Regions from separate parts of the Homo sapiens genome. Here region 1 is linked to region 2. Evidence: fine-mapped expression QTL. A gene starts in region 2. The other region holds a variant in brackets. All regions are shown on one strand. Distances are between the middles of the regions.

Region 1 (5,000 bases), 27 kb before region 2:
AAAGTAAAATTTTAGGTTATTACCACCTACAGTCATCAGCTGTTTCCTTGCAGTATTACTAATGCACAAAACAAATATTAAATGTTTGCCAATTTTCAAGTACTGTGACAAAAGAACCAATAAGACTTCCAGTTAAAGATAGTGAAATGGATACAAACATTAGCTTGTGTACCTTCCTCAAACTCCACTAAAATGGTAATAAAACACATTAAAGGAAGACAGAAGAAAAGATATTGTCAATAAAATTTTGGTAGCTGGAAAACAGATGGAGGAGTAATAATAAACTGAGCTAAGCCTTGGGAAACCTGTATCCTAAGACGGCAGAGAGCAAAATCAAGAAATAACCTGATTTATATGATAGATTCCTCAAAACCTCAGGAACTTGGGTGGCTCCAAGGATAACATCTGACTAGGTAAAATCAAGCACGGTAATGCCACCCAATTTTTCCAGAGATTAAAGCCACACTCCAAGCCAATCAATGCACATTATTTCCCTGGTTAATAATTCAAGGCTGGACACTGACCTGCTTGGCCCAATCAGATTAATGAGAAATACTTGCCAAGTCTGGAGAGGGCTTCTTTGTTGTGATGGATATAAATGACAAGTATGTGGCCCTGACTGTTTACAATATACATCATATGACTCTAATGGGATTCTGTTTTGTGGAGAGCAGAACAAAGAGGTAAAAATACTGAGTCAACCAACCTTGATGCTAACATTCCTCTAGACTGCCAACTTTATAAACAGTAAATTTTCTTAAGCTAGTTTGATGGAATTTTGTAGTTATGTGTAGCAGAAACATCAAAATGTGTAAGTGCTTACTTTTGTGCCAGGCACCACTCTAAGAACTTTACATGTAGTATCTAATACTACAAGATATATACTATCATATTCCATTTTACATATGAAAAACTCTGGCAGGTATATTAAATAGCCTGTCCACAGTCACAGAGTAAAAGAGGGAGCAACGATTTGAATTTAGGCAAACTAGTGAATTGCGATCTTTAAAGTAATAGAATAAAATTAAATGTTAGCTATAGTCAAGATAAAAAGTTTTCAAAGATACAAGGGAGGGCAGTATATTTATGTCCAAATATTTCTATATAGGGCTAAAATCAAACATTTATTTTGGAGAAAATTTATAAAGACTTTTTTAATGCCTTACCCTTCTTTTTCTTTTTCTTCTTTTTCAAATCTCCCTGTCTACAAAGAGAAAAAAAAATCATTACCATCTTTGTGATAAAATATTTATAGAGCATTAAGTAAGTGCTCTATAAGAGTTAGTTGGGCACTTATCATAAACATGGTTTAAGACTTGGTATCAGCTTACCAAAGCTAACAAATTAGTTAAGATTTGATTCAGGTTAAAGTCAATTAAGCTTCAGATACTATAATTTTTGGAAAGTAGTTTAGAAAACAGAGGTGACAATTCGAAAACAGATTCTGTTTACACTGAAAAAAGTTTTTCAGTGGCACACATTAAGTCTATGTAAAAAGTAATTTGCACAAGCATGACTACCTAGAATCCCTTGGTAAGTTACTCTATGTTTGGCAAGACTTTAGAGAATAAATTTTTTGCCAGAAGAACATGTGTAGGTAAGATACATGCAAAGAATATCTCTGGAAGGAGATTCAAAACAAGTTACGTTGGTTATGGCCCTGGGAGGGAGGTGGGTAGACACGGATGGAAGACTTTTTACTTACTCTTACACTTTTTTATCTTTTGTATTTTAAACCTGTGAGTTTATTAATTTTTTTATGTAAGTAAAATCTATATTAAGTACATTGACCAAAAAAGGCACTAAAAAGGGCATAAAAATTAACACTTCAAAATAATTGTCAAGCATTCTGAAAGTGGCTGGGAACAGTGGCTCACGTCTGTAATCCCAGCACGATGGGAGGCCAAGGCAGGTGGATCACCTGAGGTCAGGAGTTCCAGACCAGCCTGGACAACATAGTAAAACCCCGTCTCTACTAAAAATACAAAAATTAGTTGGGTGTGGCAGTGCGTGCCTGTAATCTCAGCTACTTGGGAGGCTGAGGCAGGAGAATCACTTGAACCAGGGAGGCAGAGGCTGCAGTGAGCGAGA[T/C]TGCGCCACTGCACTCCAGCCTGAGCGATGGAGCAAGACTCCGTCTCAAAAAAAAAAAAAAAGCATTCTGAAAGCTCTAGTGAAAAGAGAAAAACATAAAAATACATCTCTCTATATATTCTTATGTGATATAACTCGAGAAATATGAAACAGTGAACTAAAAAGATGAGACAACAATTCCTACCAAAAATTCATTCTACAAGTCATTCAATTGTGAACGTTCTCTCAGGATACCCCAAATAAGAAATGCAACATACTGTATCTTACTTGAGTGTTTCATCTCTTACCCAGTGTGCAATAGTATTCTAAATTGTCTCCCTACAAATTATACTCCACAGCCATACTAAAATTTCCCAAGGGTTCTCTGCTATTTCTTATTTCTCTGCCTTAGCTCACCCTTTGCCTACCTCGTCCTCATCTTCCTCAGAGTCAACACAATCATCTTCTCCATGAAGCCTTTCCTAACTTCCCACTGTCCTCAGGAAGAAGTGACTATTCCCTCCGGTGTACTCCTCTATGCCCTGTACAATCACAACAGGTGCAATCTTTATTGCAATTACTGTTTAAATATATTTCCTTCTGCTAGATTCAAGTTCCTTTTTTTTAGACAGAGTCTCATTCGGTCACCCAGGCTGGAGTGCAGTGGTGAGATCTTGGCTCACTGCAACCTCCACCTCCTGGGTTCAAGTGATTCTCCTGCCTCAGCCTCCCAAATAGCTGGGATTATAGACATGTGTCACTACGCCCGGCTAATTTTTGTATTTTTAGTAGAGATGGGGGTTTCACCATGTTGTCCAGGCTGGTTTCGAACTCCTGACCTCAAGTAATCCGCCTGCCTTGGCCTCCCAAAGTGCTGGGATTACAGGCATGAGCCACCACCATGTCAGGGCTCAAGTTCTTTTGAGAGCAAGTACCATGATTTATTTTCTGGTCAACACCTAGCATAAACCTATCACATAGTGTATTGTTAAAGGAAACTAAACCTTTGCATCCAAGTTAGTATAACAAAATACTAACTTCTAATAAGATAAAATAAAGAGCATTAATAATGCATAATGAAAATACTGTGCTGAAACTTAAAAGCTTAAAAAGTCAATGTATATCTTAATGATTGTCTAAGAAAAAAGAGAAAGAAGCCAGGCTTGGTGGCTCATGCCTGTAATCCCAGCACTTTGGGAGGCTGAGGCGGGTGGATCACCTGAGGTCAGGAGTTCAAGACCAGCCTGATCGACATGGTGAAACCCTGTCTACTAAAAATACAAAAATTAGCCAGGCGTGATGGCAGGCACCTGTAGTCCCAGCTACTCAGGAGGCTGAGGCAGGAGAATTGCTTGAACCCAGGAGGCGGAGGTTGCAGTGAGCTGAGATTGAGTCACTGCACTCCAGCCTGGGCAACAGAGCAAGACTCCGTCTCAAAAAAGAAAACAAACAAACAAAAGAAACAAAGATTATTTAAAAAAACTTTTAAAAACTTATTATTTTTAGAGATGGGGGTCTTGCTCTGTCACTCAGGCTGGGGTGCAGTGATGCAATCACTGCTCACTGGAGCCTCAAACTCCTGGGCTCAGGCAATCATCCCGCCTCAGCCTCCCAGTAACTGGAACACAGAGCCACTATGCCAGGCTAAAGAAGGAACTGCGTGTCCTTAGTAGTTACTCAACCCTGTTTGGGGAAGAAAAAAATAGTAAACATACTTTAATTGAAAATCCATTTAAGAACCCAGACTGAATTTATAATTGTAAGATGAAATGGAATTCGGAACAATGTAACCTCTTTGAGACTCCAATTCCTTATTAAAAGTTTTGGAAGTTATTATGAGAACAACAATGCTTTTTATGAAATGCAGAGTTTGTTAGAAAGAAATCAGTCATTGTTGCTGAGTTTTTTTTAAGTTAGGGAAAAATTTAGATTTCAAAAGGCATTCAAAAAAGGAGGAAGTAGCAAAAACTTATAAAAGTCACAAAGCTAAGGAAATGTTTTATCTTTTCCATGCTCTATTCATCCTGAGTCAAAAGTAAAATCTTAAAACATTTTACTGTAGGTCTCTGCTAACTATATTTTTAAGATGACGATGGAAGAAACAAGTCAAAATCTGACTTCTTTTAAGTAGATGAAGCCGACTAACCTTTTCTTCAAATCAGCAAAAGAAATCATATACTAAATGATGTACTAAATGTACAACAATAACTAAAAGGTAAAGGAAGGCACATCCAGCCTATGGAGTGTTATGCATAAAAAGGATGAAATAGGTCCACATTTTAGTACGTGGAAAGATCTCTAAAACTCATTAAATAAAAGTAAGTTGGGAAACACTAAGTACAATACAATCCTCCTTCTGTAAAAAATAACTGGGCGTGGTGCCCAGCACTTTGGGAGGCCGAGGTGGGCAGATCACTTGAGGTCAGGAGTTCAAGACGAACCTGGTCAAAAGGGTGAAACCCTGTCTCTACTAAATGCACAAAAATTAGCCTGTAGTCCCAGCTACTCGGGAGGCTGAGGCAGAATTGCTTGAACCCGGGAGGCGGAGGCTGCACTGAGCCAAGACTGTGCCACTGTACTCCAGCCTGGGAGACAGAGCAAGACTCTGTCTCAACAAACAAACAAATAAAAAAAAAATAGTAATAAATAAACCAATTTAAAGAAAATATTTGTAAACCATCTGTGTGTGTAAACACAAAGAAAAACTTCTGGAATAATAGATTAAATTAATACCAGAGGTTAATTTTGGGCTGAGGGAAAAGGGAAGGAAATAAGGACAAAGAGCTGGGCACAGTGAGAGAAATGGAAAAGGAACAAAGAGAACTAGAACTTTATTCACATGAAATTTCTATGAGAATGTATTTTTTATTCCTTGTCTAATTTAAAATCAGCATTAGAGAACGTTACAATGAAAAATATTACCCTTGTTC
Region 2 (5,474 bases):
TAAAAAAAAAAAAAAAAACTCTCTAAGGCTGAAAAAAACAGAAGTTACTAGTATTCCTTCCAGTTCAGAAACATTATTGACAAGCAAAAGGGGGGAAAAAAAGGAAGGAAAAAAACGTTAAAAAAAATCAGCAAATAGTTGGGAAAAAACATGGAAGAGATTATAGCTATAGTAAGTGTTTCTAATAACTGTACAAGCAACTAACTGAATCACTTACTTGGCTAACACTTTGGTGTGAGTATTGATGACATTCAAAGCTTCCTTGAAACTTCCATTCTGGATAAGGCATACCACTTTACAATGCAGGGCAGTTACGTCATCTTTGTTGATCTGTAGTACTAGAGAACAATTTTAGGAAAAGTCATTTTTAAATCCATTTCCTTTTCACATTTTTACTAAATTTTCCCACCCTGTCTCTCCGAAAGCTAAATTTCTACTTTTATTGCAACAGAAATAATTGGTCAGAACAACTGGAAGAAACAGCAACAAAACAAAACAAACCCAGAAAACAACTAATCTTTGCTTTTAACTTAAGAAGTGACAATAAGGAGAGTTATAGATTAAATTTTCAATGAGATAAAGATTCCCAATATACATGTACCAAAAAAGTGCAGTGAAATAAAGAAGAAAGAAGCAATTTCTCCAGATATTTCATCTTGAAATGCATGCTACATTCTACATAGTTCATTACTTCACAGGGAAAAAGTTCAGGTAGAATTTGGAAGCAAATGACCTAGGTTTGGTGCAAGCTTGCCACTAAATGCTTTGAGGTATTGGGCATATCACTTAACAGCCAAATCTCAGTTTTCTTAGCTACAAAATGATTAGAAAAGCATTACCTATTTAATAAGGTTACTGACAATATGAAATGAATATTTTGGAAAAATCTTATAAAGTATAATACAAAGGCAATTTATCTTGCTGGCAACGTTTCCAAAAATCATTAAAATTTCCCCTTTTCAACTAAGATGACCAAAGTATAAGGAAGAACTCAGGTGGCAAGTTTCAACGCTAACAACTGTTCGGTGTTAAAATGACCAGGATCATAGTTACTCTTGCTCCTGTGCAACTACAGAAGTCCAATTCTCAAAGAATCACAAGAATTTCTACCAATTAAGAAAACATACTGGTAAACAAGTTGACAATCTTTGCTGATTAAAGAATTCCTGCAAAATACTATACTAAGTATACAGTACTGGTTGGAAGGCTAGAGTTAATTCAAACAAATTTAGGGATCAAATAATTCTAATTCGTAGCTATTTTCCTCAATGTCTGAAATCACCAAAAGTGCACTGTGGGCACAATCACTACTTTTCACGTTAACCCAGTACTAGAGTGTTGAAAATTACTTAGATAGCTTTGCATGTTACTGACACACCTTTTAGGTTACTGCTACTCTGAACAGCTAAGCCCTGCCTTGGTAATTACATTTCCAAATCTAACATGCACAGGCTGTATCTTCAGTAGAGAAGAACTGCGCACCACCGAGAACATTAAGCAGCATGGCCATATTCCAGGTATGTAGTAAGGAACAAAAGAATATGATGAATTAAACCTCACACCAAAGGCGGTAAAAACCGAAATCATCCCTTACAGGGCAAAAAAACAGGCCAAACTTTTCTTCCGACATTATTTCAAGTGTTGGTGCTTCCACACACATATTTCCTAACTTAATAACACTGAAGAGATCTCATCTATGGGAATGACAGGCCTGACATCCAGATCCAGCCCTTTCCTCTCGCCCCGTAGAACCCGTACAGCTTCCACCTGGTTAGCACCAGCCTCTAAACTACGTGTCCCAAGCAGGTTCCTCCCCCTTTAGCGGCCAAAGAGAACAAGCTCCCTCAGCAATAGAGTCCTGATCACTGCGCTCAAGACGAAGAAGAAAAGGAGGCACTTTGGAATATTTGTGAAATAAAGCAGCAAAGGAGTCAAATAAGAAAACAGTTTGAAATGGACTCCGGGAGCTGCGGTCTCTTTAAAACCTTCCCTCGCTTCCCGCGGAGGGTAAAAAGAGAAGTACACGTGGCTGTAAGCAACCAGGGACCCCAGGCTGGCCTGGTGAAGCCGAGGAGTGAGACCTGCGTCTTCCGGGCGCTAGGGCCCGAGCCGGGCGGACAATAGACGGGGGGGTTTCGGGGGTCTCCCCTTCCCGTGCCTCCCGCGCGAGGTGGTCTCGCGCGCCGGAAACAGGCCGCATCCTCCAGCCGGCCTGGGCCCGCCCCAGTGCCCACCCCGACACTTACTCTTATTGACGGTCTTGAGAGCGCGCGTGAAGTCGCCGTTCTGGCCATACCGGTTCACTTCACTCCACAGCGCAGGTACTGACACCCCCCCGCTGCCGCCGCTCGCCATCTTGGAGGAGACGAGGGGCGGGGCGGGGAGACCTCTGCCCCGGAACAGGATCTCCGAGGCAGCCAAGAGGAGGAGGAAGTCGATGATTGCTAAGCGTCGCCGAGTTGGGAGTGTCTTCAGCCCTAAGGCAGCATCAGAGATCATAATCTTCTGCTCTCGTGGCAAGAAATTTGTGCGGATAGAGTTGATACACCTCACTTGAAGTTGGCCTGGAGAAAAGAGGCGTCGGACTCCTGGACGGGGTTGGGAAACGGTCACCAGTTTCGGCTCAAAGCAGCCTGTTTCCAGGAGACCGCCATGGTCGAGGCAGCGTCCTGGTCCCACGGTGCGGGGCCGGACGATCATTTATGGGATATAAATAAAAGGACTATGAGGTGGTAAATAAAAGACTACCAACTAGAAGCCATAGGGAGTCATTTGAAGGAGAAATAGGCACGGCTCATCTGTGGTTGAGGGAAAGGGATCTTGAAAGATGATTAGGAGAACTTGGGTTCTGGGGAAAGTGCGGGAAGACATTCTGGCAGAGAAGCAAACGTGAGGAAAGGTAAGAAGGCAAGAATCTCCCATTACAAAGGGTTTGGTGAAACCCTTTGCCTGTCCTTTTCGCTCCCTTCGGGAGCAGTCGGCAATAAGCTGGAAGGGTAATGGGGTGAAAATGCCCGTGGTCAGTTCCCTGGCTCTGCGACTCACTAGATGTCTGACAATAAACAAGTTACTTAGCTTCTGGGAGTCTGTTTTCCCGATTGTGAAATGGGGATACTATATTTGTTCTAGAGATATAAAATATTAGGGTTTGCTTGCGACCGTTAATATCAAGATGTGTTCAGATGTACGAAGGGAATGGATATCTGTTGGGTACACTTGATGTGAGTGATTTTTTTTTTTTTTTGAGACGGGGATCTTGCCGTGTTGCCCAAGCTGGTCTGGAACTCCTGGGCTCAAGCAATCCTCCCACCACAGCCTCCCCAAGTGCTGGGATTACAGGCATGAGCCACCACACCAAGACGATGTGAGTGATTCACTTGATGTGAATGTTGTATTTCATTGAATGGCCTGCTCTTCAGACTCATATCTCGTCATGACCTTTACAACTTCTACTACTTCCTGTGTCCCTCAGGAACCTAGCTTTTTTTTTTTTTTTTTTTTTTTTTTTTTGAGACGTAGTCTAGCTCTGTGACCCAGGATGAACCTCACTGCAATCTCCACCTCCTGGGTTAAAGCGATTCTTTTGCCTCAGCCTCCCAAGTAGCATGAGCCACCACGCCCGGTTAATTTTTGAATTTTTAGTAGAGATGGGGTTTCACTGTGTTGGCCAAGCTGGTCTCAAACTCCTGACCTCAAGTGATCCGCCCTCTCTCAGCCTCCCAAAGTACAGGGATTACAGGCGTAAGCCACCGTGCCCGGCCTTGCTAACTACTTTTTGTCTTTCAGTCTTTCTGGTTATACGTTGAAAGTTACTTTGAGGAAACATTTGATCTTGCAGACTGGGCAGCCTTCTGGTTGCATCCTCTTAGAACAGGGGTCCCCAACCCTTGTACTGGTCTGCAGCCTGTTAGGAACCGGGCGGCACAGCAGTAGGTGATCGGTGGGCCAGTGAGCAGTACCGCCTGAGCTCCTGTCAGATCAGCTGTGATATTAGCTTCTCACAGCTCAAACCCTATTGTGAACTGGGAATGTGAAGGATCTAGGTTGCTCACTCCTTAAGAGAATCTAATGGGAAATGTAATGAGCTTGAATCATACTGAAACCAGCTGTCCAACTCCTGTGGAAAGATTGTCTTCCCTGAAACCGGTCCCTGGTGCCAAAAAGGTTGGGAGACTCCCTATAGGACTCCACTTCTGAGCACTGATAATTAAGGGTTATCTCACTCTGTATGGACTATAGTTCTGAGGCCAAGGAACCATATTTACCTTGCTCACTGCAGTATCCCTAGGATCTAGCATACTGCCTGGCACATAGTTGGCATTTTTTGTTTCACATTCCTTGCCTAATCTTGAGTTCCTTGAGGGCAGAAACTGCCCAGCTCCTGATATGGCATATGGTGCCCTGCCATATTTTTGTCTGGTCCTTCCAGTATATACAATGCAAAGAGCATGAAAGGTGGCTTGAACTCTAGGTGCTGGAGGGTGTAATTCTTGTGAATTAGTAAAAATCATGAGAAGAGCTTTAGACTTTTACTGACTAGAATTGTCACAGGTTTCAAGCCAGTTATGTTTAGATTTCAGGGGGTGGGGGCTCCAGATGACATGGTATACCCAAAATGTTGTGTGAGAAAATTGGGTATACCCAAAATTTTGTTGTATTTTGTTATTCTGAGAAAATGTAGATTCCACTGTATTCTCCAAAGGTGTTTATATCCACCATCCCCTCCCAAAAGTTAAGAGCCACTGTCCTAGTAGTACTTTTTAGAACATTGACTTTATATAAGAATTGGCAATTTTCGTTTCTATATCATTCTAATCCTATATACTTTGTAGCTTTTAGAAATGCTCAGAATTCTGCTGCTGTGGACTTGTTTCTATTTCTTATGTCATTTTAATGGAGTTTTGTGGCAAACAGCCTATAAATATGGGGCTTAACCTGCCATTTTTGAAACAGGAATCTTCCAAACCATAGTGGTGTTTTGTTTTTTTTTTTTTAAATAACAAATTTACATCTCACATTGTGAAGGATGGAAAGATTGTCTGGTGAGGGGCCACTCTGATTCATAGATGGCATCTTCTGTTTTCACATGGTGGGAAAAAAACCAGACTGATCTCTTAAAGCATGTATCTGATGCCACTTTCCTACCCTCACGATAAAATCCGAACTCCAAAGAAGAGCAGTAAGAGCTTTTGTGATCTGGCCTCTGCTTGCCACCTCCCCAACTCACATAGGTCTCTATACTTATTTCCTAGCCCCCTTGCATGCTATTCACCTCTAACTTCCATGTAGTTATGTGTCCCCCTACCTCCTGGAATTTGCATTTTTATTCATCTGACAAGTGTTTGTCTTGTATATGCCAGTGCCGTGTATTACACCAGTTGCTGTGATACAGCTGACAACAAAGAAGACAGCCCAGTGTAATACATTTATTTTCTAGTTGGGAGAGATGGGTAATAAATAAACATGTACTATGT

The links. PIP is the estimated chance that this variant, and not a neighbour inherited with it, causes the effect. A credible set is the group of variants that fine-mapping cannot tell apart.
Region 1: its variant is the best candidate, but not a certain one, in a credible set for the expression of SRP72 in whole blood (TOPMed, PIP 0.74).

Annotation. Positions count from the first base shown.
Region 1 is chr4:56,491,561-56,496,560 of GRCh38, reverse strand. It overlaps SRP72 (signal recognition particle 72), which reads right to left. Exons shown (of 19, transcript NM_006947.4): 16 at 4,993-5,000; 17 at 1,167-1,204. Among named protein-coding and RNA genes, the nearest start is that of ARL9, 12 kb to the left of the region's middle. The variant T/C (reference allele first, on the strand shown) is at 2,092.
Region 2 is chr4:56,464,517-56,469,990 of GRCh38, reverse strand. SRP72 (signal recognition particle 72) reads right to left here and starts at 2,374. Exons shown (of 19, transcript NM_006947.4): 1 at 2,247-2,374; 2 at 218-338. The coding sequence starts at 2,355. LOC124900706 (a long non-coding RNA gene) reads left to right here and starts at 2,433. Exons shown (of 2, transcript XR_007058126.1): 1 at 2,433-2,899. PAICS (phosphoribosylaminoimidazole carboxylase and phosphoribosylaminoimidazolesuccinocarboxamide synthase) reads right to left here. Exons shown (of 9, transcript NM_001079524.2): 9 at 5,413-5,474. RefSeq lists an enhancer at 2,320-2,529.